Homo sapiens: one gene and its partners. The protein of the gene in region 7 purifies or fractionates together with the protein of the main gene of each other region. This does not show direct contact. Each region holds a gene or a part of one and is shown on either strand. Other genes may lie near its edges. The genes, in order: GID4, DAPK3, ACTR10, CYTH3, PPFIA1, PPFIA3 and GPS2.

Evidence for each region.
Region 1: the proteins of GPS2 (region 7) and GID4 purify together in Homo sapiens (affinity purification with mass spectrometry; 3 studies listed by BioGRID and IntAct, with this or other methods). This does not show direct contact.
Region 2: the proteins of GPS2 (region 7) and DAPK3 purify together in Homo sapiens (affinity purification with mass spectrometry; 4 studies listed by BioGRID and IntAct, with this or other methods). This does not show direct contact.
Region 3: the proteins of GPS2 (region 7) and ACTR10 purify together in Homo sapiens (affinity purification with mass spectrometry; 3 studies listed by BioGRID and IntAct, with this or other methods). This does not show direct contact.
Region 4: the proteins of GPS2 (region 7) and CYTH3 purify together in Homo sapiens (affinity purification with mass spectrometry; 4 studies listed by BioGRID and IntAct, with this or other methods). This does not show direct contact.
Region 5: the proteins of GPS2 (region 7) and PPFIA1 purify together in Homo sapiens (affinity purification with mass spectrometry; 4 studies listed by BioGRID and IntAct, with this or other methods). This does not show direct contact.
Region 6: the proteins of GPS2 (region 7) and PPFIA3 purify together in Homo sapiens (affinity purification with mass spectrometry; 3 studies listed by BioGRID and IntAct, with this or other methods). This does not show direct contact.

The regions. Positions count from the first base shown.
Region 1 is NC_000017.11:18,042,408-18,045,907, reverse strand, and holds part of GID4 (glucose-induced degradation protein 4 homolog), read right to left. Parts: intron 762-3,500; coding exon 702-761; intron 1-701.
Region 2 is NC_000019.10:3,961,100-3,964,599, forward strand, and holds part of DAPK3 (death-associated protein kinase 3), read right to left. Parts: intron 3,275-3,500; coding exon 3,145-3,274; intron 2,821-3,144; coding exon 2,772-2,820; intron 2,571-2,771; coding exon 2,544-2,570; intron 414-2,543; exon of another isoform or gene 315-413; intron 63-314; coding exon 1-62. UniProt on the Homo sapiens protein: Serine/threonine kinase which is involved in the regulation of apoptosis, autophagy, transcription, translation and actin cytoskeleton reorganization. Involved in the regulation of smooth muscle contraction.
Region 3 is NC_000014.9:58,213,649-58,217,148, reverse strand, and holds part of ACTR10 (actin-related protein 10), read right to left. Parts: coding exon 3,451-3,500; intron 1,945-3,450; coding exon 1,865-1,944; intron 1-1,864. UniProt on the Homo sapiens protein: Part of the dynactin complex that activates the molecular motor dynein for ultra-processive transport along microtubules.
Region 4 is NC_000007.14:6,185,625-6,189,124, forward strand, and holds part of CYTH3 (cytohesin-3), read right to left. Parts: intron 2,098-3,500; coding exon 2,033-2,097; intron 1,493-2,032; coding exon 1,426-1,492; intron 1-1,425. UniProt on the Homo sapiens protein: Promotes guanine-nucleotide exchange on ARF1 and ARF6. Promotes the activation of ARF factors through replacement of GDP with GTP. Plays a role in the epithelial polarization.
Region 5 is NC_000011.10:70,371,690-70,375,189, reverse strand, and holds part of PPFIA1 (liprin-alpha-1), read right to left. Parts: intron 2,998-3,500; exon of another isoform or gene 2,979-2,997; coding exon of another isoform or gene 2,976-2,978; coding exon 2,800-2,975; exon of another isoform or gene 2,714-2,799; coding exon 2,616-2,713; intron 273-2,615; coding exon 97-272; intron 1-96. UniProt on the Homo sapiens protein: May regulate the disassembly of focal adhesions. May localize receptor-like tyrosine phosphatases type 2A at specific sites on the plasma membrane, possibly regulating their interaction with the extracellular environment and their association with substrates.
Region 6 is NC_000019.10:49,143,544-49,147,043, reverse strand, and holds part of PPFIA3 (liprin-alpha-3), read right to left. Parts: intron 1,102-3,500; coding exon 1,039-1,101; intron 879-1,038; coding exon 852-878; intron 1-851. UniProt on the Homo sapiens protein: May regulate the disassembly of focal adhesions. May localize receptor-like tyrosine phosphatases type 2A at specific sites on the plasma membrane, possibly regulating their interaction with the extracellular environment and their association with substrates.
Region 7 is NC_000017.11:7,312,561-7,316,581, forward strand, and holds GPS2 (G protein pathway suppressor 2), read right to left. Parts: upstream 2,801-4,021; 5' UTR 2,771-2,800; intron 2,560-2,770; 5' UTR 2,493-2,559; coding exon 2,399-2,492; intron 2,038-2,398; coding exon 1,928-2,037; intron 1,844-1,927; coding exon 1,731-1,843; intron 1,600-1,730; coding exon 1,520-1,599; intron 1,429-1,519; coding exon 1,346-1,428; intron 1,162-1,345; coding exon 1,008-1,161; intron 910-1,007; coding exon 820-909; intron 732-819; coding exon 652-731; intron 565-651; coding exon 469-564; intron 280-468; coding exon 196-279; 3' UTR 101-195; downstream 1-100. Other genes in the region: NEURL4 (neuralized-like protein 4), read right to left, coding at 3,563-3,767. UniProt on the Homo sapiens protein: Key regulator of inflammation, lipid metabolism and mitochondrion homeostasis that acts by inhibiting the activity of the ubiquitin-conjugating enzyme UBE2N/Ubc13, thereby inhibiting 'Lys-63'-linked ubiquitination.

The DNA of each region.
Region 1 (3,500 bases), about 11 Mb from region 7:
CTTTTTTTTTTTTTTTGAGACAGGGTCTTGCTCTGTTGCCCAGGTTGGAGTGCATGGTGATCTTGGCTCACTGCAACCTCTGCCTCTCTGGTTCAAGTGATTCTCTGTGCCTCAGACTCCCAAGTACCTGGAACTACAGGTCTGTGCCACCATGCCCGGCTAATTTTTTTTTTTTATGTTTAGTAGAGATGGGGTTTCACCATGTTGGCCAGGCTGGTCTCCCTACCTCAAGTGATCTGCACACCTCAGGCTCCCAAAGTGTTGCGATTACAGGCATGAGCCACCGCGACCAGTCAGTAACTTTTCATTGTTCCAATTAACTAAGAGGCTTAAAGAACTTAAAAGCTCATTTTTTATAGGACTGATGCTTATCTCAGAAACTGTTAAACTTATGATGAGGGTGGCAGCTATATTCTTATTATTTTTTCCCCCAAAAAGGATTAAAAATAAAATCAATAGTGTTGGTTGTGACAATTATGATGTACTTATAAACTTTTCTTTAAAACATTTGTGAATCTGTACACTTCTCAACAGGACACACTGAAACTGCCTGTTTTATGTTCCCTATACAGTAGCAATGCTCAGGAGTAGTCTGCTTTAATTAGGCCTCAAGGAGTTGAGACCGCCTGCCCTGAACCCCAATGAGCCTGTGGAGCACACCACAGACTTTCTAGTGCTGGTTTGTGTGAGCAAGTGCTTACCTCAGTAAGGCCTTTAATCTTCAAGTACCCACAAAGGTAAGAGTTCCCCGTGTCCACGTGCTGAAAAGAAAGGATACACAGCCTGTCACAAATAGATAAACTTACTAGGGGACATGCAGGAGGGTACTCTGCAAATCCTGTGAGGCCAGACTGGTGGTCAGTGAACACCCAGGGCAGTCCAAGGCTCACCCAGTCTCTGGAATCTTGATAAGTTCTCCCCACACACATGCCTGTTCTGCCAAAGCAAACTGATCCCAAGACCCTCTCAACTTTCTTCAGCTGAATATCATGAGACTGAAGTGTCTTTCTGAAATGGGGTGCCCACTCAAATTCATTTTCTGTACTATCTTCAACACACGTCTCCCGGTCATCTAGAGACCTTGAGCATTGCTGGGCACAGGGCCTCTGTCTCTGCCTGTACACGTGGTGTCATCCCTAACCTCAGGCTTGACTTTCTTTCTAATGTCTTTCAAGCCTTTTTCTATTTCTGTATTGCTCAATCATTGGTCTAGGAGGTCTGCTCCTCTTCTAGTTTTTACACTAAACATCATCCTGCATTATCTCTTTATGAAATGGGCAGACTGTTCAGAAATGGCATCTTATAAAGATTTATGTGGTATAAACTTCAGTTATGAACCAAAATGCCAACCAAAAGTCTGACTATATTGTGAATGTTCACTCTGTGCATTTTATATATGGATGCTGTGTTTCTTAATGAAAAGAGTCAGGAGCCTAAAATAAATAGAAATAACAGGCATAGTAGACTTTGAGGTTTAGCAGTCACCAATTACTGGTTGCTGAGACACTGCCGGATGCCTACCCAACAAACAATTTCCTCCTTTTTCACGCTGGCAGGGTCCAGTTTTTGCTCTGGTACCTACCTACCACGTAAGACTTGGTCAACCTGATGGATCTAAGGCACACAGGTGTCCCTATCCCCTTGCAAGTCATGTATTTAGGGGTGAGTGACCCATTTCTGGCTCATCAGATGTGTAAGTCTCCTGAGTGCATCTGTGAAAAATCCCTGGCTTTTGAAGAGGCGCATGAGGAAGAAATGGCTTTTTTGTCCCCTAGTGGTGACAGTATCCGCATGGAGTGTCCAGTCCTGGGGGAGACATCTAGACCACAGGGGAGAAACAGGCCAGGAAATGCTGAGGATGGTAGTTAGAAAGATGGAAAAAACTGGGCCCATCGTAGGCCTCTGAATTAACCAACCTGAAGCCACGTCACCTCAAAAATCCTCCTGATGTGAGATTTCACCCAAATCTATACAGACTCATTCTGAATAGGGAGTTTCAGATTTCATGACAATTGGATTCACTTACAAGGTAAATCCTTGAATTAAAGCAAACCAAGTACAAGGGTACCTGTGGTACACTGAGATTTTAATGTTAAGTGAGGTCTTATTTCAAGAAATTAGAATAGTTTTGTGGCATTTATCAGATTTGTGAACCTGATTACTTCCAATTATACCATAAATCAAATACTAAGCCATGCTTAAAAACTGTAATGAACTTAGTCAACCAGATGATGTCAGCACCAAAGCAAATGAACTTCAATGAAGCCAAAGTGCCTTCACAGTTTGGTGCTGGTGACAAAGGTATTCCCTGTGAAAACTGCCAAAGCATTTTAAATATCCTCATCTGCTGACCTTGGCACTGGACATTATCTAAAACAGCTAATCCACGCTAACATGGTTCAGCAAAGAACTTTTATTAAAGGACACATAATTCTAACCTGAGTCTTTAAATTTCATGTATGCAATTCTCATTGAATTCAATATAGTTTGGAGTTTCACAGCTGCTGAAAAGTGTATCAGGTGGCAAGGATACTTGCTAATAAGATTAAAAATTGAAATGTAAATTGGCTAACATTTTGCATGGATTATCACATGCTCAAGAATCAGAATTTCAGCTTGGCCTCCATTCAACCAAGCGTCTCTCTACTCTGCCCAAATTGATCTTGATAATGGTTGGTGAACTCAAATACACCACAACGCATACAGCTTTTACCAAACGGCAGGCGAGCATCTCAAGAAAGATAACAGGGCACGTGTTTAGCAAGAAGGTGTCACAGCACAGCTGTGTCCAACGGCTGTTCTTTTAAATATTCCTTTCACAGCGACCAGGGCTCCCTTCTACTGCTGGCTTCTTAGATGGCAGAGGAGGAAAGAGGAGTCACAGTAAGTGCGGGGTGGAGAGGAGACCCAGTCAGAAACTCACAAAGGTTTGAGGAACTCTTTACACTAGAATCACAGAAAAGAAAGTACTCCAAAACAACAACAACAACAAAAACACAAGAAAAGATGCACAACAGCACAGTCATTATAGAAATTCAAATCAAGACTACAGTGAGAGACCACTTCAAAAACACTAGGATGGCTACAACAAAAAAGATGAACAGTGAGTGTTGGCGGGGATGTGGAGAAACTGGAACCCTCACCCACTGCTGGTGGAAATGTAAAACAATGCAGGGCCAGTTTCTCAAAATGTTAAAACCCAGTTACCATGTGACCCAGCAATTGCACTCCCAGGTAGTTATCTACCAAAGTGAAATATACATCCACATAAAAACTTGTACATAAATGTTCATAGCAGTATTATTCATAGTAGCCAGAAGTGGAAACAACCCAAATGTCCATCAACTGATCACTGTATAAACAAAATGTTGTATATCCATTCAATGGACAATTGTTACAATGAACAATGCAAAATAAAAAGGAATATAAGTGCTGATACATATTACCATATGGATGAACCTTGAGGACATTATGCTAAGTGAAGGAAGCCAATCTCAAAA
Region 2 (3,500 bases), on a different chromosome or scaffold from region 7:
CTGAGATGTTGGTGAGCGTCTCCTGCTTGGTCTCGCCCAGGAACGGGGATGCACCGCTCAGGCTGCGAGACAGGCGTGGGGGCTCAGTGGGGTCCTGGGCTCCCACCACGGCCGCGCCGCCTCTCCGGCTGCCCACGACAGGCGGAGCACAGAAGACAGGCTGACGGCAGGTGCCTGGGCCACTCACACTCCTGAGCCCTTAGAACCTTCCTGCAACGATCCCAGACACCACCCAAGAGGCATTCAAAATCCACCCCCCCACCCCGCCACTGACAGCAGCAGAAATGAACAGGCAGAAGTCTCCTTGGAGACTCGAAGTATCTGTGCAGACGCAGAGCCCGAAAGCCCCCAGTGCTCAGTAACGCCGAGGGGAGGGTAACTGCAGTGGGGAGCCCGAGCCAACACCTTAGCCAAAGGATCAAGGTCAACAGCCCGGCAGTGAGAGGCCCCAACAGCGTCTGCCTCCCAGCCTGACGCTGGGAGGGTGACACAGCATCATCCCTGGGGTTTTGAGCAGAGACACTGAAGCCCCGTCTGATCGTCTGATCGTGACAGCGCACGAGACTAAACGTGGACTCAGACGCCTTCTGCAAAACACCTGACCCGTGAGCACAAGTCAGGGTCAAGGTCATGAAAGCCAGACAGAGGAACAGCCTCAGACTGGAGGCGGCGAAGGAGCTGAATGGCTAAATGCCGTGTGGGGACCTCAGAGAGGACAGGAGTGGAAAACGGGGGTGTCTAACCACCTCTGGCACTTTAAATTTTTTAAATTTTTTAGAGACGGAGTCTCGCTCTGTCACCCAGGCTGGAGTGCAGTAGCGCGATCTCGGCTCACTGCAAACTCCATCTCCTGGGTTCATGCCATTCTCCTGCCTCAGCCTCCTGAGTAGCTGGGACTACAGGCACCCGCTGCCACACCCAGCTAATTTTTGTATTTTTAGTAGAGACATGGTTTCATCGTGTTAGCCAGGATGGTCTCAATGCCCTGACCTCGTGATCTGCCCTCCTCAGCCTCCCAAAGTGCTGAGATTACAGGCGTGAGCCATCGCACCCGGCCCATCTAGCACTTTTGTGATTAGCGTAGCACCAAGGCTAACGTCTTGGTGTTCATAACGTTCGTGTTCATGAAAAATGTAAACTGAAGGAGGAGGAAGCTGCAGGGGGCGTCTGTGCTGTTTCTGTTGCTCCTTTGTAAGTCTGAATTATCTGAACATTTAAAAAGAATACAAACGGTCTAGCCCATCTCCTGAAGCCTTTGGGTCCGCTCACGCACTACAGCGGGCTGGGCCCACGCCATTGTTTATTTCCTTGCTTACTGAATGAGCTATGCCCATTCAATATGGCTGGGCAACACAGTGAAACTCCACCTCTACAAAAACTTTTAAAAATTAGCCAGCTGGGCACGGTGGCTCACACCTGTCATCCCAGCATTCTGGGAGGCCAAGGCGGCCGGATCACTTGAGGTCTGGAGTTCAAGACCAGCCTGACCGAAATGGTGAAACATCGTCTCTACTAAAAATACAAATAATTAGCCAGGCATGGTGGCAGGCACCTGTAATCCCAGCTACTTGGGAGGCTGAGGCATGGGAATCACTTGAACCCGGGAGGCAGAGGTTGCAGTAAGCCTGAGCTGAGACGGGGCCTTGGCACTTCATCCAGCCTGGGCAACAAGAGCGAAACTCTGTCTCAAAAAAAAAAAAAAAAAAAAAAAAATTAGCCAGCTGGGTGCAGCGGCCCACGCCTGTAATCCCAGCACTTTGGGAAGCCGAGGCAGGCAGATCACCTGAGGTCAGGAGTTCAAAACCAGCCTTGATCAACATGGTGAAACCCCGTCTCTTCTAAAAATACAAAAATTAGCTGGGCATGGTGGTGGGCGCCTGTAATCCCAGCTACTCAGGAGACTGAGGCAGGAGAATCGCTTGAACCTGGGAGGTGGGGGTTGCAGTGAGCAGCTGAGATCGCACCACTGCACTCCAACCTGGACAACAAGAGCAAAACTCCATCAAAAAAAAAAAAAAGTCCGAGCATGGGAGCATGGTTGTGTGCACATGTAGTCCCAGGTACTCAGGAGGCTGAGGTGGGAGGATTGCTTAAGTCTGGGAGGTGGAGGCTGCAGTGAGCTAGGACAGCACTCCAGCCTGGGCAAGAGAGTAAGACCCCGTCTCAACAAATAAAAATAATAAACAACAGCAGGCCCACGTGTGGCCCAGGGACAGGAGCCAAAACCCAGCGTGGGGTCGGACCCCTTCCTTGCACTTCGAGAGGAGGCTGGGCTCCCTAGCAGCCAGAGGGACAGGAGCACACACGACCCCCAACCCGGAGCCTGCTCAGCCGCTCTGTGAGTGTCCTGCCTTCAGAACTCTCCAGAAGCCTCTGTGACAGCAGCCACAGAGAATCACTCATCCGTTCACCCGGTATCCCCTGAGTACCCGCGATGGGTCACAGCCAGGCTGGGGACCCCTGGCGTCCACATGAGACACACGGAGCCGGGGACCCATGCCAGCTGTGTTGCACAGCCGAGGGGGCCCCCGCCAGGTACTCACAGGATATAGGTGATGACACCGATGCTCCTGGGGACAGACAAGAGGCAAGGGTCAGCGCAGCGTGGGGCCGCCCACCCTCCCAGGACCGTGGCGTCCAGCGCCCCTGTTCTAGGGCAACGGTCCCCCCATACCCCAACAGCAGCAAGGCCCCGCTTCATCCCCAGCTGCAGCACTGGCCTGCGCTCCAGGAATGCAGGGAGGCCCGGTGGGAGCAGGTGGTACACTCACCACATGTCCGCCTCCAGGCCCAGCGGCTCATAGTTCACAATCTCTGGGGCTGCAGAACAGGGAGATGTGGGTCAGGCACTGGGGACATGCTGGCCAAGGAAGAGGCTCAAGACACAGGCATGGGGTCAAGGTTCTCACATGTCGCAGCCCTTGGGGGCATGAATGCGGCAGAGCTGGCCCTCAGGGCCTGACGGGTAGGACAGCGGGGCTGCACCAAATGGAGGCCCAGACCTCCCGCAAAGCCGGGCCCAAGAGGGGTGGCTTCAGGGCCGAGGACGCGGCACCCAGCACCGGGCATGACCCACCCCACGCACAGCAGGCAGCCCCAGACCACCCTCCCCAGGCCGGGGCTGCCCACTGGGCAGGGCCTCACCCACAAACTCCGGGGTGCCGAAGATGTTCTTGAACTCGTTCCCCGCCTCGATCTTGTGCGCGATGCCGAAGTCGATGAGCTTGATTCGTGGGTTGGGCACGTTCTTGTCCAGCAGCATGATGTTTTCCGGCTGGGGTGGGAGGAGGCTCAGCAGGGAAAGCACGGGCCTCCCCCACCCTCACCCCCACGCTCCCCAAACCTCACCCTCACGCTCCCCGCAACCTCACCCCCACGCTCCCCCAACCTCACCCCCACGCTCCCCAAACCTCACCCCCACGCTCCCCACACCTCACCCCCACGCGCAGGAGGTGCCTTCCAGGCTCTTCCCCGCCCCATCCCCACCCCCACACTGGCCA
Region 3 (3,500 bases), on a different chromosome or scaffold from region 7:
ACTGAATTTATTATCTTTGAAGACCTTTTATAAATTACCTGTCACCAAAATATACTAAGACATCACAAAGTTATCTGGAATTTGAAAGCTATAATTGGATCTACAGAATGAAAAATGCTATTAACTTAACTATCAATAGGGAACAACAGGAAAACATAGGTATGCCTAAGTGTCGCAAAAATCTCGCTTTCCAACATATATTCAATGCCCTAGCACTATACTAGGTGCTGCAGATTGAAAAATAAATAAGACAGGGATCCTCAAAGTCTCCTGGGGGAAACAAGTGAGTTAAGAGGCAAATGAGAATGTGTCATATGTGCTATAATAAATTACTGCCAAGGGCTTAACAGAGAGGAGCAATTTATTCTGCTTAGGGAAGATGAGGAAGGCTTCACCATTAAGATGACATTCCAGCTGAGTCATGCAGAGGGATCAAAAACCAAACTAGGCAAAGAAAAACATCCCAGGGAAAGAAAAAGAATAAATGAAGGCACAGGGCTGTGCTAGGACTCACGGTGCCTCGACAACTGTAAGAAATTTACTGTAGCTTTAATAAGGAGCAAAGGATAAAGTTTAGTGACCTAAGGATAAGAGGTAGAACAAACTCAGATTTTGAAGAAACATTTATATCCAACAGATAATTTGGATTTTAACCTGTAGGAGCTTACAAAAATTCTCAAGCAAAAGAGCAATGTATTTATATTTATTTTGTGAAAAATTGGCTGGGCACAGTGGCTCAGGCTGTAATCCCAGCATTTTGGGAGGCGGGGGCTGGTGGATTGCTTGAGCTCAGGAGTTCGAGACCAGCCTAGGCGACATGGCAAAACCCCATCTCTACAAAATGTACCCCCCAAAAATTAGCTGGGTGTGGTGGCTTGCGCCTGTAGTCCCAGCTACTCAGGAGGCTGAGAATGGAGGATGGCTTGAGCCTAGGAGGTGGAGACTGCAGTGAGCCAAGATCGCGCCACTGCCCTCCAGTCTGGGCAACAGAGTGAGATCCTGTCTCAAAAACATAAAAATATTTGTGGAAAGTTATTCCTGGCAACAGTGTGAAACAGACCGAATCCATCCAGAGTAGACTTCTGTAATAATCTAAGAAATGAGGGCCTAGATTAAAACAATGTCTTTGCTCTCGGGTGTTCAATGGTGTGGAAGGTTAAAAAAAAAAAAAAAAAGAAAGAAAGAAAAATGAGATCTGAAAGAGATTTCTGAAGAATTGAAAGGCTAACTTCCAGTTTTGTAAAACGGGAGACAAGGAAAATATTACCTTTATCTAATAATTGAAATGAATTTGAGGAAAGACATAATGTATTCACTTTTGGAAATCTTAAGTTTGAGGTGCCTAGAGACATGCACAGTCTCTAATAATCAGTTGGAAATATGAATATCAAGTTCAGAAGAAGGATCAGGCCCAGTGACACATTTCAGAATCAACAGCATGCAGATGTAGAAGTTGTGGGAGTAGATAAGATCACAGTTAAAAAGCCAGTAGAGAAAAAGAAGGAACAAACACTAGATCCCTAGTCGAATACAAGTAGAGAAAGCAAGAGCAGAGGAAACCAGAGGAATATTTGGGGAAATAATAGACAACCACTAAAAAAAAGAATCCTGAAAGCCAAGGAGAAGAAAGCATTCAAGAGTACATGATGATCCACAATGTCAAAAGTTCTGGAAAGGATGACTAAAATCAAACTATTGAATTTAGTGATTAAAAGTTCAATGGTGAGCTTATAGTTGAAGCAGTACCATCAGAGTGGCATGGGGAGAAAAGAGAATAATCATGCAATGGAGCAAAGACTAAAATACAAGTTGAAGAACAAAAAGAGAGTGTAAACCACTCCTAAACCACTTAAAATGAATTTACCCATCACTGAGGGAAGGCTCTGTTCTTTAGCAACACTTGTGTCAACAGTACATTGTTCCAATAGTTGAGTTTCCAACTCTCTGAAATTAAAAAAAAAAAGTTACTGGAATGAAAATATTGAAACTGATATCCTTATTTGATACTTTCAACTACATAATAGATTATTATGATTTTTTTTTTGGAGACAGTCTTACTCTGTTGCCCAGGCTGGAGTGAAGTGGCGCAATCCCAGTTCACTGCAACATTCACCTCCTAGGTTCATGTGATTCTCCTGCCTCAGCCTCTCGAGTAGCTGGGATTACAGGTGCCCGCCACCATGCCCGGCTAAGTTTTGTATTTTTAGTAGAGATAGGGTTTTGCCATGTTGGCCAGGCTGGTCTTGAACTCCTGACCTCAGGTGATCCATCTGCCTTGGCCTCCCAGAGTGCTGGGATTACAGGTGTGAGCCACCACACCCAGCCCGATTATTATGATTTAAATAAAAATGATCTTCCTGCCAGGCACGGTGGCTCACGCCTGTAATCCCAGCACTCTGGGAGGCTGAAGCGGGTGGATCACCTGAGGTCAGGAGTTTGAGAACAGCCTGGCCAACATGGCAAAACTCTATCTCTACTAAAAATACCAAAATTAGCCAGGCGTGGCGGCGCACGCCTGTAGTCCCAGCTACTCGGGAGGCTGAGGTAGGAGAATCGCTTGAAACCAGGCAGCGGAGGTTGCGGTGAGCCGAGATCATGCCTCTGCACTCCAGCCTGGGTGACAGAGCGAGACTCCATTTCAATAATAATAATAATAATAATAAAGGTCTTCCCCATGACATAAGTTTACCTATGTAATAAACCTGCACTTGTATCTCTAAACTTAATAAAAGTTAAAAAAAAAAAGAAAAAAATGTGGTACATATACACAATGGAATACTATTCAGCTATAAAAAAGAATGAGATCCAGTCATTTGCAACAACATTGATGGAACTGGAGATCATTATGTTAAGTGAAATAAGCCATGCATAGAAAGACCAATATTATATGTGCTCAGTTATTTGTGGGATCTAAACAGCAAAACAATGTAACTCATGGACATAGAGAGTAGAAAGATGGCTACCAGAGGCCAGGGAGGATAGTGGAGGGATACAAGGGAGGTGAGGATAATTAATGGGTACAAAAAAATAGAAACAGTAAGACCTACTATTTAATAGCACCACAGGGTGACTGTAGACAATAATAACTTAATTGTACATTTTAAAATCATGTAAAGAGTATAACTGGATTGTTTGTAACTCAAAGGATAAATGCTTGACGAGATGGATACCCCATTCTCTATGATGTGCTTATTTCTCATTGCATGCCTGTATCAAAACATCCCAGGTACCTCATAAATATATACACCTACTATGTACCCCCAAAAATTAAAAATTTAAAAAACTGGTTTATTCTTAAAAAATGAATATACTCGAAGCTAATAGAGGGCGGAATGAATAAAATTCACTGTCCGTATCACAAGCCCTCTATTGATCACTGATCAACAAACAGATTAGCAACTGTTTTTGTGGCACAGGTGAAATGAATATGTTAAATTCCAAGAAACTTACTTGTGAAGAGCTTTTCCTCCTAGGGGTAGTGCTCCCCAACAATTTAGAAC
Region 4 (3,500 bases), on a different chromosome or scaffold from region 7:
GGGAGGTGGAGCTTGCGGTGGGCCGAGATCGCACCACTGCACTCCAGCCTGGGCAACAGAGTTAGACTCTGTCTCAAAAAAAAAAAAAAAAATTATCTGGGTGCAGTGGCGCATACCTGCAGTCCCAGACCTGCAAACCGTGAGCAGGAAATAACGACATGCACTTCTGTAAATATCACCTGCAACTGCACCTGCACTTATGTGAGTTTACAGATCTTAGACCTTGTACAATGGAATTCTGCAATCAGATATTTATCGAAGGAACAAATAATTAACTCATTAGCACAGAGGCTCAATGCCAGAAAAGCAAGGGGAACGTTAGAAGTACAGACCGACTGGGCCAGGCACGGTGGCTCACGCACATAATCCCAGCACTTTGGGAGGCCGAGGCGGGCGGATCATGAGGTCAGGAGATCAAGACCATCCTGGCTAACACAGTGAAACCCCATCTCTACTAAAAATACAAAAAATTAGCCGGGCGTGGTGGCGGGCGCCTGTAGTCTCAGCTACCCGGGAGGCTGAGGCAGGAGAATGGCGTGAACCCGGGAGGCGGAGCTTGCAGTGAGCCAAGATCGTGCCACTGCACTCCAGCCTGGGTGACAGAGCAAGACTCTATCTCAAAAAAAAAAAAAAAAAAAAAAGTGCAGACCGACTGAAGACCACAGGAGTGGCGTGAACCAGCTCTGCAGCGAGACCTTCCCGTGGACACGCCGTTCCTCTCCTCAACCCTGAAGACTCAGGTCTACCCTTCTTTCTCAAAACCAAAATGTCCCCCAAAAAGCTTCACAGATTCTGCCAAATCCCTTAGCTCGGTCTCAAAAACAAGCAGCTACATGTTTCAGGTTTCACGGTTTTCGAGTGTCTCCCTAGAAAATCCAACTTGAGGAAAGAGAAAGATGCTGGCTTAAATGTGGAGGATCCCTTGTTTTTTCACAGACACCTGCTTTTTAAGGTGAATGGAGGAATAAAGTCCTCTTATGTGAACCACTTAACCCACCCAGATTATAAAGTCCGTAACCTCTGGACACCAGGGTTCCACTCCCACCCCTGCTCCTTCCTAGTCACGTGATTCCCTGACCCAGGTCAAGCGGGAAGATGCGAATATGAGCCTCGACAGCAAGGGCACTGCCTGGAGCCAAGCCCGGCCTGTGCTGAGTCGTCCAAGCCGTGCCTGTGAGGCTGCTTCCTCACCCAGCAGCTCACTCTGAAAGAAAGGCCTTTCTGCCCAGGGCACCAGCCCTACAAGGCACTTCTGCTTCACCCCACTCGCGAAAAGCCCCTTTTTGATAAAAATGTGCCTTCAACTCCCAGTCTTTTATGAGGTGACAGGGCGGACCACCTCTGACCTCTGTCCAAAAGGGAAACGGCAGTTCAAATCAATTAGTCCATCTCCTGCAGGCCAGAAAAGGGAGAGCATTCTCTTACCTTTTTGGGATCCATGTTGAATTTCTTTCTTCCCATGGCTATCTGTTTGTTCCTCTGAGTCGTTTTGCTATTGGTGTGAAATAATTTAAAAATCACTCATGCTGTTTTCACAATGCAGCCCAGTCACGGCCCTCCAGTGTACTTTCCCCCGCAACAACGGGCTCAAGGAAGCGAAGCACAGGCCCTCACGGAGGGGCCCCCAGTCTCCGCAGTGGCGGCAGGGGTGGTGCAGCCACCATTGCTGTTCACATTTGATAACTTGAGACACTTCAGAAAAAGCTAATGATGCAAACCAGTGATTTTAATAAAGCACAGTTCCTTATGACGCAGGCAGGTAATTTCTGTGCGGGTCAACCCTGAAGTGCCTGTGCTTATGCCTGAACCTATAAAGGCAGATGATGACTTACAGAGGAGGCAATGGGAGGTAACATCCAGGGAAACACCCCTGGACCCCTCCACGCAGAGTAGGGGGAGAGGAGAGGAATTAACAACTCCACAGGCTCCCCACATCCCAACCACTCTCACCCCACTTTCTGCAAGTTTGACTACAGGATGGAGGTAGAAAGAAAAGAGTAAATAGCTTAAAGGTGTAGCCACAAATTGTTACCTCTCCTCTACGGAAGTTAGATTGTCGATCTCTGTCATCACCTCTGCAATTTCATATTTCAGCCTCTGTCAAAAAAGAAGAATTTCGAGGTGGGGAGTGGGTCTTAACCTTCCTCCCCTGAGACTCAGAAATTTTAGTTCTCTTGTGACAAGCTTCCCTGCGGTCTCACCGGAGCATCACAGGGATGGAAAAACCAATACTATTATCAATACAGCTAGAGCTTCATAGTCAAAGCCACCACAACTTAGGAGAACACAAAATTCTTTGCTCACTTTTCATCAGATACCAGGTTCAGAGGGGTCCACTCTGCAGATCCTAGGGTATTTGTATATAAAATCAGGCAAGCACACTGGGGGGGGAATATCACAGCTGTGAAAAGATAAAACCAAGCCAGGAGCAGTGGCTCATGCCTGTAATCCCAGCATTTTGGGAGGTTGAAGCAGAGGGATCGCTTGAGATCAGGAGTTTGAGAACAGCCTGGGCAATGTAGCAAGGCCTCATTGCTACAAAAAAGAAAAACAGAAAAATTAGCTGAGTGTGGTGGTACATGCCTGTAGTCCTAGCTACTAGAGAGGCTGAGGAGGGAGGACTGCATGAACCCACGAGTTTGAGGCTGCAGTGAGCCATGATCACACCACTGTACTCCAGTCTGGGTGACAGAGCAAGACTTGGTCTCTTTTTTTAAAAAAAACAAAAAAACAAAAAAAAAAAGCCCAGCAAAAGGAAAGCCATGAGTCCTCAGTTCGCTTAACTGCACTATTCAGCCCTGCCATGCAAACAGTTGTCACCTGCCTCCTCCTTCAACACTGCCTGTGTTCCCAGGGAGAAGCTGAGGCTCGGGTGTGTTTAGATCGGTGGTCTCAGGCTGAAGCTCAGGTGTGTTTAGGTCAGTGGTCTCAGGATCACTTGTATCACCTTGAATGAGATGAAGCACCATGGACAGAGCCCGGGGGTGAACAGAACTGACTCAGGGCACTCAGAGAAGCCAAATGCATCCAAGGGGACAGACCCCCTTTCCCTTGATGTGACCCCTACTAATGAGACTGACCTCTGGAAGCCTCCAACTTCCCTGGGCCTCAGTGTGCTCACTGATAAAATGAAGTAGTTAGAGCTAGATTACGATTCCACATTTATCCAGCAGGCTGATTACTAAGGTCCAAATAATATACATCCTTATTCTTCAACCAGAGACCAATTCTGGGTTATCTGATTTTCCCAAGAATGAAGGGTAACCTTAGAAGAAAAATTTCCATGAATTACCTTTCAAATACAAAGACATTTTTATTCAGGACCCTATTATATGCCAAGACACTCGGACTTAAAACGCAAACTCCTAGAAAGGAGCTATTGTCTGGGACAAGGCCTGTCCTTGCCGTGGCCTGTGAAGCCACATTTATTTTGGCAATGACAATGACTAGAAAGCTTCTCAAAGAAGACCTCCATGTCTGATTGACTTTCCCAAGGAAGC
Region 5 (3,500 bases), on a different chromosome or scaffold from region 7:
TTTTTTTTAAAGTTTCTTTCTATTCGAATAACTAGCTGTCTATAATCAGGGTGCCAACTGAACAATGAGTGCAGACACAGACAGGTTTGGCGTCACCTGTGTGTTCTGCGTCGGGATCTGTAACAGCAGTGCCAGTGCACTGAAGTCGAAGGTTTCATCTAAGGCCAGAAGTGCTCCGTGAACACCACTCTCTATAAGATTGTTTGCATATTCTTTAAGGCCAATTGACAGGATCCAGCGAATCACTCGATCATTGCTCCAAACAAGCACGTCTGCAAAAGAATAAAGACAATTATAAAAGTGGCTTCAGAAAGCCATCTTTATCACATGTACCCTGTAATGCAGGAGAAAGATTCCTACCATGGTTCCTAATCCTTCGGCTCCTGAGAAAAGTGCTGGGAGACACTGCTAAATAGACAACCATTTGCTGCACTGAGACAATGGTGTCCTGGCCCTGCTCCACTCTCAGGGAGACTCTCCCATTAGAACTCATCCTTCCAGTGAGCACGAGAGGAATGAAGTTATTATTTCTAGAGAAAAGAAGATGATGAGGATCCAGGGATCAGAAGCCAGAGGACTGCAAGAACTTGAATACCTAACATGTATAAACATGCTTCACACACAGACTGGAGAGTCTTCTGAAATACTTCATCACGGATGGAGCTGGCTCCATAATAATATGAACACTTTGCTCAATTCAACAGAAACCTCTCATTTCTAATCTCGAAGTCTTTGTCTCATTTTAAAATGAGAGAAACTTAACAATATCATCCAGCACATTAGAGACTTTGCAGAAAATCTTTTTTTTTCCTCTCTTTTTCTTGACAATGTCCTGCTCTGTCACCCAGGCTGGATACAGCCTGGTACCATCATAGCTCACTGCAGCCTCAACCTCCTGGGCTCAAGTGATTTTTCCCACCTCAGCCTCCTGAGGAGCTGGAACTACAGGCGTGTGTCACGAAGCTCAGCTAATTTTTTTGTACTGACAGGGTCTCACTATGTTCCCCAGGCTGGTCTTGAACTCATGGGCTCAGACAATACTCCTGCCTTGGCCTCCCAAAGTGCTGAGATTACAGGCATGAGCTACCATGCCCAGCCACAATATCTTATGCAAATTAACAAATTATTCAATTTGCTCTATTAGATCTAAAAATAGCCACTCTAAAAATATATGCAGATGATCACCAATCACTTCCAAAGACACTTCCAAAGATCTTTGTCTATTGGAAAAAGATGTAAAATAGATACAGAAAACAAAACAGATGGACATATTTCATTGCCAATGCCCTTTTCTGGATAAAAGTCCATACATATACACACACTGTATAAATGTCGACTTACGACTTTTCTCCTGATTCACATTAACTCAATCACAAGTAGACTTCCCTTCAACTGGGCCATCTCCCAACCATATTTTTATCCTTAGTTTCTTTCTTAGTATAAAGTGGGGATGAAAACAGCACTTAGACTGACAGGGCTAAGGTAAAGATGAAAGAAAGCAACCCCTGAGTACTTAGAACACCACCTGGCACCTACTCACTGTTAGTAAGACTGGCCTCTTCTTATCATTATTGTTATTGGTGACTTCCTTGCATTCCAGGAATTCTGGGAGTCATTACTCTGAGCTTAATGTTTACTGTCTAATTTTAAAAGCAAATTCTGACTGGGTGTGGTGGCTCACACCTGTAATCCCAACACTTTGGAAGGCCAAGGTGGGAGGATCCCCTGAGCCCAAAAGTTCGAGATCAGCCTAGGCAACATAGCGAGACCCTGTCTCTACAAAAAAAAAAAAAATTCCAGGCATGGTGGAGCACACCTGTACTCCCAGGAGCTACTAGGGAGGCTAAGGCAGGAAGAGCACTTGAGCCCAGGAGTTCAAGGCTGTAGTGAGCTGTGATCACACCACTGCACTCCAGCCTAGCCTGGGCTACAGAGCAAGACCCTGTCTCAAAATAAATTAAATAAATAAATAAACAAACAAACAAATAAATTTGAGTACGAGTGAGGGACTCCCCAACGGAGAAGAGAACCAACTCCACGTCTTCTGGATGAATGTCTCACATCCTCTAACGCCTCCCTGGCCTGTGTTTTCCAACTGAAATGCCTTTTCCTTACCCTAAGCAGCTCCTCCTCCTTCTTCAAGGACCAGCTGAAATGCAGACGCTGCCTCTCCTTCCCCTCCGGGAGCAGAACTGCACGGTGCTCTCCTGTTCTCCTGAACCCCTTGGATAAGCCCCCAGTCATATTTCTCACACTTGAATCATCAAGTGAGCTTTGCTCTGTTGTTATCTAACAGTGTGGAACAGCATTTCGGAGTGAAGGAGTACACAGGGCATGACCAAAGGAAAACTCTCAACTCACAGGAAACGACTAGCCGGAGACATTTAACCTCCAGACTGATGTGTGAGAACACAGGGAACAGTTCTCTAGCTGTGGAAGAGAATCTCAAAAGCACTCAACTTCATCCAGCCCTCCTCTGCAATGACACTAGACTAGTTAGTTTTCTCCACTTAAATTTAGCCTTTCTTGATTTTTTGAAAAATAGGAAGTCACTGAGGCTCCAAACACACCAGCAAGTAGGAGTAAACCGAATCAATTAAATGTCATGTACTAACCTTTTATTTCACTCTGACTTTCTTCTCTTTTTCTTTCCAGTTCTTTCCGGTCATAATTTAACCTTCTCAGGCACATAATTCCACACTGGAAACTGTTTCTATTTGGAAGAAAAGAGAGATGATTTAGAGATGGTAACAGTGAAAAATCTTAGCCAATTATTAAGAACTATCTCCATTAAGTTACCTGTGAAAACTGTCGACCATTTTCAGCTGCCCTCGAAGGTCTTTCTTGGTCAAGTGGTCCAGCATCCTGGCGTCTACAAGGCACTCCATGAAGTAGCTGCGGTACTGGGGGAGGCCCAGGCTGGGGAGCCACTCGTTGCCGATCCACTCGTGGTTCATGTCCCCATAGGCGAGTGTCTGCTTTTCATAAATGGAAAAGGTCAGTTACAGAGGAAGTCTCAAAAGTAGTTTATATCATTTTTAAAATGAATTTTTAATCTATTACCTATATTCTCAAAGGCTAAACTAATGATAATTTTATAATTGCAAAATAATTTGATCTCTTCTCACCTTTTAAATTTGTTAGTAAAATTTTTATACAACAGGAATAGTAACATGAAAAATATATGATTCGTTGTGATAAATTTAACTTTTAAATCAAACTACAAAAAAACTGTAACTGGCTATAAATTTCCTCTCTGAGATAGTTTTTAGTATAATAATGTGACAAAGATTGATCACGACTCATGAACAAGTTTGAAGGCTCAATTCAACACTGCTCACTAAAATTATCTCTGGTTGGTTTACATTTTAACACTTTGTTTTCCTAAAGAAAAAATCCATTTCAAAATCAGTAAAAGTCAGTTAAAATATAGTTTTAGAGAAGAGATAAAGCAACAACCAACAGGACTAAATGGGGAAACAGGCAAATTCACAATTATA
Region 6 (3,500 bases), on a different chromosome or scaffold from region 7:
CCTCCCCCTGGCTGGAAATATGTGATCTATGACCACAGTCAAACATAATTCCTCCGTGGACAGTGAGTTCATGCCTCTTGGGTTTTTTTGTTAGTTTATTTGTTTGGTTTTTATGAGATGGAATCTGGCTCTATCACCCAGGCTGGAGTACAATGGTGCAATCTCGGCTCAGTGCAACCTCTACCTCCTGGGTTCAAGCGATTCTCCTGCCTCAGCCTCCCAAGTAGCTGGGATTACATACGCTAGCCACTGCACCCGGCTAATTTTTGTATTTTTAGTAGACACAGGGTTTCACCATGTTGGCCAGACTGGTCTCAAACTCCTGACCTCAGGTGATCTGCCCACCTCAGCCTCCTAAAGTGCTGGAATTACAGGCGTGAGCCACTGCGCCCGGCCGCCTCTTGTTTCTTGAGAACAAAGTGTAGCTCCTCCTCCCCAACTTCTCATTCAGCCTGGCTGCCTCACCACCACCACAGCCAGTGTGTCCTCCTTGGCCCTGGTACACTGAGCAGTCCACTGTAGCCCCCGCCCCCTCCACTATAGGGACACCGGCTGCTCAGTCTCTCCTGAGCTACAGAATTGAAGCCCCTTAGAGCCCCCACAACCCACGATGATGAAATGGTCCATGCATAAGGCTGACTATGCAACAGTCTGGGCTTCCACATCGCATCCCCTCTACCCTCCCCACCGCCAAGCCATAATGGAACAGTCCAGAGCCAAGCTTGGCGCAGCGCCCCCCCATGGGGATGATGGCATGTTCTGGTGAAGGCAGGGGCAGGGCTCGGAGGAGGGGCATCCATGCGTCGTGCACAGCCTGTTCATGCGCTCACGCCCCGCCCCGCGCCCCCTACCTGCTCCCAGCTGATCTCCTTGGTCTCCTGACCCGTTAGTAGGAAGAGGGGAGAGAAGGGGTGAGTTAAGGGGCAGGCAGAGGAGGACGCAAGGAGCGGACTTAGGGATGGCCACAGACTCGGTCCCCGCCCCCACCCCCAAAGAAGGTTAGTGCCACCCCCAAGGCGGCCGGCAGGGGGCACTCACGGGCTTGGTCGTGGCCGTAAGGGACTCCATCTCCTCGTGTGTCATCCACACGTTTCCTGTGGACTGAGGGGCAGGGAGTGTTAATGGATGGTGGGAGAGGGCTTCGCGTGGGGGAGAGGAAGGAGGGTGTCCTCCTGAAGGCCCTGGGCCACACGTTTATGTCCCTCCTGCTTTCTGGGGCAAGCAGTAACAGAGAAAAGGAATGATTCTTATTATAGGGCACCTGCCATGTACCAGGCAATGTGACTTTGGAGTTGAACAAATTCAGGTTGGAATTGGGACCCTGCCATGCATTTTGCTGTGTGGCCCTGTGCAAATGACGTCACCTCGCTGACCTCACACAGAGGTACAGAATGAGGATTCAGAAGTGGGGGACAGACACAGCCATGGTGCAAATGTTTAGGGAGTATGGCGGGGGGGGTTCACATTTATTGAGCTTCTGCTCCCAACAACCTCACGAGTTAGGAATCCATACAAGGATAAAAACATTTATGTACTTCTGGTGAGTGTCAGGCACCAGTCACCGTCATAGGGTGTGGGATATGGCAAGGGACACGACAGACACTTTTCGTCCTAGTGGGGGAGAAACAATGAACATATTTTAAGTATGTTGGGGAAATTTGAATACAGAGTGAATAGTAAATGAAATTAACAACTGTGGCCAGGCGTGGTGGCTCACACCTGTAGTGCCAGCACTTTGGGAGGCTGAGGCGGGCACATCACTTTTGGAGATTGAAGACTAGCCTGGCCAACCTGGAGAAACCCCATCTCTACTAAAAATACAAAAATTAGGCTGAGAGTGGTCTAGCACTTCGGGAGGCAGAGGCGGGTGGATCACCTGAGGTCAGGAGTTCAAGACCAGCCTGGCCAACGTTGGTGAAACCCTATCTCTACTAAAAATACAAAAATTAGCTGGGCATGGTGGCGTGTGCCTTTAATCCCAGCTACTCAGGAGGCTGAGGCAGGAGAATCACTTGAACCAGGGAGACGGAGGTTGCAGTGAGCCAAGATCGCACCACTGCACTCCAGCCTGGGCGACAGAGTGAAACTCCATCTCAAAAAAAAAAAAAAAAGAAAGAAAAGAAAAGAAAAAGAAATTAACAACAATGTGAATGCCCTTAGGTGTGATAAAGGATGTGGTGTTTACAAGGAAGAAAAAGACCCACTAAAGTAATTTTGGGGGCTAAGATGTTATGACTTTCTCCAATTACATTCAAGTACAGGTCTCTGAGCATCCCCAACCTGAAAATCCAAAATCCAAAATGCTCCAAAATTCTAAACTTTTTTTTTTTTGGATGCACTCTTTCTCTGTCACCCAGGCTGCAGTACAGTGGGACAATCACAGCTCACTGCAGCCTCGACCTCCTGGGCTCAAAGGATCCTCCCACCTCAGCCTCCTGAGTAGCTAGGACTACAGGTATACGCCACCACACCCGACTAATTTTTGTATTTTTAGTAGAGATGGGGTTTTGCCATGTTGCCCAGGCTGGTCTCGAACTCCCGGGTTCAAGAGATCGGCCATCCAAAGCCTCCCAAAATGCTGGAATTACAGGTGTGAGCCACAGTGCTTGGCCCTAAACTTACGTGCTGACACGAAGCCACAAGAGGAAAATCCCCCACCTGACCTCATGTGACAAGTCACAAACAAAATGCAGTCAAAACTTTGTTTCATGCACAAAGCTATTTAAAATATTGTAGGCCGGGCACGGTGGCTCACGCCTGTAATCCCAGCACTTTGGGAGGCTGAGGCAGGTGGATCACGAGGTCAGGAGTTCAAGACCAGCCTGGCCAAGATGGTGAAACCCCATCTCTACTAAGAATACAAAAATTAGCAGGGCGTGGTGGTGGGCGCCTATAATCCCAGCTACTCGGAAGGTTGAGGCAGAGGATTGGAATTGCTTGCACCCAGGAGGCAGAGGTTGCAGTGAGTCGAGGTCGCACCATTGCACTCCAGCCTTGGCGACAAAGCAAGACTCCCATCTCGAAAAAATAAAATAAAAATAAAAAATAAAATATTGTATAAAATTCTTTTTAGGCATGTGTATGAGATGCATATGAAACATAAATGAATTTCATGTTTAGGCTTGGCTCCCATCCCCAAGATATTTCATTTATATGCAAATATTCAAAAAAAACTTTTTAAAATCAGAAATTCTAAACACTTCTGGTCCCACGTATTTCAAGTAAGGGACACTCAACCTGTACTCCCCACTCCCCGCCTCCACCCCACACACACAACAGAGCAAGTACAGCAAAAGTTTGAGAATCGCTGAACTGGGTACACATGATTTTCTGTATGTTTGAAATGTCTCGTAATCAAAAGTTGGAACGAGGGCCAGGCGTAGGGGCTCACGCCTGTAATCTCAACACTTTGGGAGGCCGAGGCGGGCGGATCACCTGAGGTCGGGAGTTCAAGACCAGTCTGGCCAACGTGTCAAAACCCTGTCTCTACTAAAAATACA
Region 7 (4,021 bases):
ACTTGCTGTGGACCTGCCAGCCATCCCCCCACCCTCCAAGCAACCTTGACCTATTCCAGACAGTTGGGTGGGAGGCAACACAAACAGCAGCAGCCAGGGGCAGTGGCAGGTAGATTTTATTGGCCTGGGACACACAGGGGATACCCTCACCCACGATGGGGTGGGGGGTGTGGTGTTGAAGATATAATCTGATGGTCACTTGTGGTAGAATCGCGGGTTCTGGCTGTGTTGGATGAAGGGGAGCCGAGGGCCAGGTTGGCTGGTAGCTGCAAAGCCCGACTGGTGGTGGTGATGAAAAGAGGGCTTTGTCACTGGGCATACTCTCCCTTCCACTTAATACCCTACTGATAACCACCCCCAAAGAGGAAGGAAAAACCAGATGATGTGGGCCACCTGTCCTACCTAATCCTGCTTTTCCGGATCCCTAGTGTAGGGATTCTGACAGGTAAATTCTATTACCATTCTTACCTTTCCTGCTGGCTGCATCTGCACAGGGAGCTGGGGGGAAGCAAGGAGTCCAGGGGCTGGATGCAGAGCCTGGGGGTGCATGGGGCGCAGAGAGGACTGCAGAGAACAGAGTCAGGGCCTGAGGCATACTGAAGCTCCCCTTAACATATCCCTAACCCTGACCTCCCAAGGTGCCATACTCACTGAGTCGGAGAAGCCAGTCTGCTGGTTAGCATGTTCCATCTGCTTTTGCAAGGACAGGGCACCACCAGGCTGGAGGAAACCTAGGTGGGGAAGAGGGGCATGTGAGATGAGAATGAAACAGGGAGGGGAGGACCTGAGAGCTAGAGCTCCTGCATGGGATGTTATCACCTGTCTGAGTGGGCTGAAAGTGGCCATGCACAGCATAGGGCTGTGGCTGTGGCTGAGATAGGTACTGCACTGCAGGGAATGCCGAAGGAGCTGAGAAAGGAAAAGACAGAGCCATTAAAATCTTTTACTGAATGGCATTCCTCCTTTGACCTTGAGGAAGGCCAAGCCCCATCCCTCCTATTACTCACCTCTGAGCTGCTGACTAGGACTATAAGCTGGCTGTGTGGGCCCATAGTGAGGTGGGGGCTGAGCAGTCCCATAGGCACCACCAGGACTGCCTTGGAATTGTCCATGCTCTGGTGTCCCTGCAAAAGCAGCTGCTGAGCCCACGTAGTGCCGGGTCTAAGGAAGGAGAATGAGAACTCGCCTACAAACTCCTTGAAAGCTGAAACCCAGTGACTTGTGTGTATCTGTATGCCCCGTTTCCCCCTAAACTTAAGTGCTTGATATGTTTGTGACTTGAATACTGGTGGCAAGGATGCATGGATGGAAGTACTAGGGGCTAGGCATCCAATCCTACTCTCACCGTAAGCACTTGGGGTCCAAACATTTGTTTGGCTCTGTCAGCTGCCATGAGGGTGCCTGGGCGATTGTGTCCTCCAGGGCTCCCTAGAAAGGGAGAAGGGCTTCATGATGCTGAAATGGGAGGCTGTGACCTCCAAGAAGGCCGGTTCCATCTGGTGGTTTCTTTAGTCCTCACCCTGCATGCTGAGGAGATGAGTTCCTGTGTGAACAGTCAGGCTCTGCTGGTATGCAGCTGATGTTAGGGTGGTCAGGTCACTGGAGTGAAAGGAAGACAGGTCAAAGTCAAGGACAGATGCCTTCTCTTTTGCCATTAAACACTGGTTCTTTTACTACCTGATCCCAGTTCCACTTGGCCCCCATTTCAGTTTTTAGCACTCTGATCCCACCTCTGTTCCTTTCGCCTCCGTTTTTCTTCCTCATGTAAAACTTTCTTGAGCTGCAGGAAAAGCTGGTGCTTCTCTTCCTGTAGAGCCAAAAGCTTCTCCTCCAACTTCAGAATCTGGGATGGGGTGGGAAAAGAAGATGAAGGCAGGGAGAGTCAAACGAAGAAATCAAAGCTGGGAAAGTTCAAGGGACTGCTTACTTGTTCCTTGGTCTCCTCTAATGACATTCTCTCTTCCATCTCCTTTTTCTTCCTTCTCTCCTGTTCTTCCTTCATCTTCTGTTCCATCATCTTATCCACCTCTTCTTCCTCTGGAGAATCAGGCAGAATGAAGAAGAGGCAGGGTAGTGAAAACAATTCCAACGTTACAGATTGAAGACCAGCAAAACCCAGTCATCCCAACACGCCTGTATGCTCTTTGCCTCGAGGGGACAAGCTCCCCATCGCGGCAATAGGGAACGGAAAGGCTTTATCAGGTGCTCTCCAAGGTCCTTCCCATCTCAAGGGTTCTGGAGCGTGGAACAGGACGCTTAAATCCCACCACAACGGGGCTATTCCTTCCCTCCTCTGCGCTCGGCAGCGGGCGCGCTGGTTGGCCGGTGGGTTGAGGCCAGCCTTGAGGTACAGGAGCCATTCTGGGCCGTGCGTCCCCCTGCTATGGCCCCGGCTCACCCTGCCGCTTGCGCTCCCGCTCCATCATAATGTGCCGGTGCAGCGCCCTGGCCATGGCGTTGGAAAGCTTGGGGCGCTCCAGGAGTGCGGGCATGGTGCTGCCGTGGGCGCTCGGGCCGTGGGCGCCCGGCTGTCTCTGACTGCCAGACCTCAGACGGGGCCTGCGGGGAGGCGGGCGCTCAGAGGGGGCCGCGCCCGGCCCAGGCGGAAGCCCGTCCGCCCGGCCCGCTCGCCGCCCCGGTCACGTGTCCCAGGAGCCCGCCACCCGGCCGGGACCGCAGCCCCAGTCCCACCGCGCGCGGGCGGCGCCGGGGTCCCCGGCTCGCTGCTGCCGCTCCCTGCCCAGCCAGCGCGGACGACTGCCCTTCCTACCCGCCTTCTCTGCGCTTTCTCAGCGGCTCCGACGCGCCCTGGCCCCTGCGTCACATCCGGCGGCCCGGCCGAGTCCTTCCGGAGTCACGGCGGCGGCCGACCTCACAGGTGAAAGAAGGCGGAAGCGCGCTGCGACGGGTGCCCGCGGCGTACAAACCCCGTCGCCGGGAACGTGAGCGACGACGGCTGCAGACTGGCCTTGGCATCCTCAGCTCTCTTTAATTTCGCGGGCCCACCTGGTGGCACCCCAGGGGACGCGGGCTCCGGAGAGGGGCGCGCGAGAGAGAGGCCGAGGCGGAGGCTCTGAGACGGTGTTTATTGGCTCCTTAGAAATCAGAGTCAGTAACAACTGTACAGAGGCCCCCATCTTCCGTGCGCCCACCCTTCCCCACTCCCGCCCGGTGGCCCCGGAAAAAGCAGCTTCATGTGGGCACAGGGAGAGACTCCTCTGGGATTCACAGTAACCAGAAACAAAAACGGAAATAAATTAAGTGATGTGGGGTAGGGGAGTAAAAGGGAGTCATGTTCCCCAAATCAGTGCATGAAGAGGGGTACCAGGGCCTGGAGCTGGGCTCCCACGACTCCTCCCATCAGACGGAGTGCTGGGCCTCCGGACATGGAGCTGTGCCACTTGCCACCTACATCTGAGAGCCTGCCTACATGCTCCTGCGCGGCTGCCAAGCTCCAGCACCTGCGCATGCCACGAGTCACGGGAATGAGGTGGAGGCAGTCGCCACTCAGAGTCCATGGGCCCGCGGCCCGACTGTGCTTGTAGTAGTGGTGTCTCACCCCTCATTCCACCCGTACCAGCAGGGCACAGAGGAGTGTGGCCCCCTTCTCCTTAGTGACCCACTCAAGTTCGGCTGGACTGAAGTGAGGGTCAGGAGGTTCTCCAAGGGCAGCGGAAGGGGGTCCCGGGGTGTAGGAGCCAGGGCGCACACACACCTGGAACGCCACCTGAGCCTGGTGCGTCCGCTGGGATTTGGGGTCCCGGAATCTGTCAGACAAGAAAAAATAAGGGAGTGAAGCCTCTCGCCCCATCACCTCCCCCTTGCAAAGTCTGTTCCAACCACACAAGCCTTGCTGTACCTAGGAAATACTCCCACCTTATGGGAACTTCGCTCTAGCTGTTCTACCTGAAATGCTCTTCCTCCCAAAGCCTGCTCAGCTACACCCTTCACTTCCTTCTTCAAGCCTTTGCTCGAATCTCTCCCACCTTCTTAGGATGTCCACACCAACCGCACTGCTGTC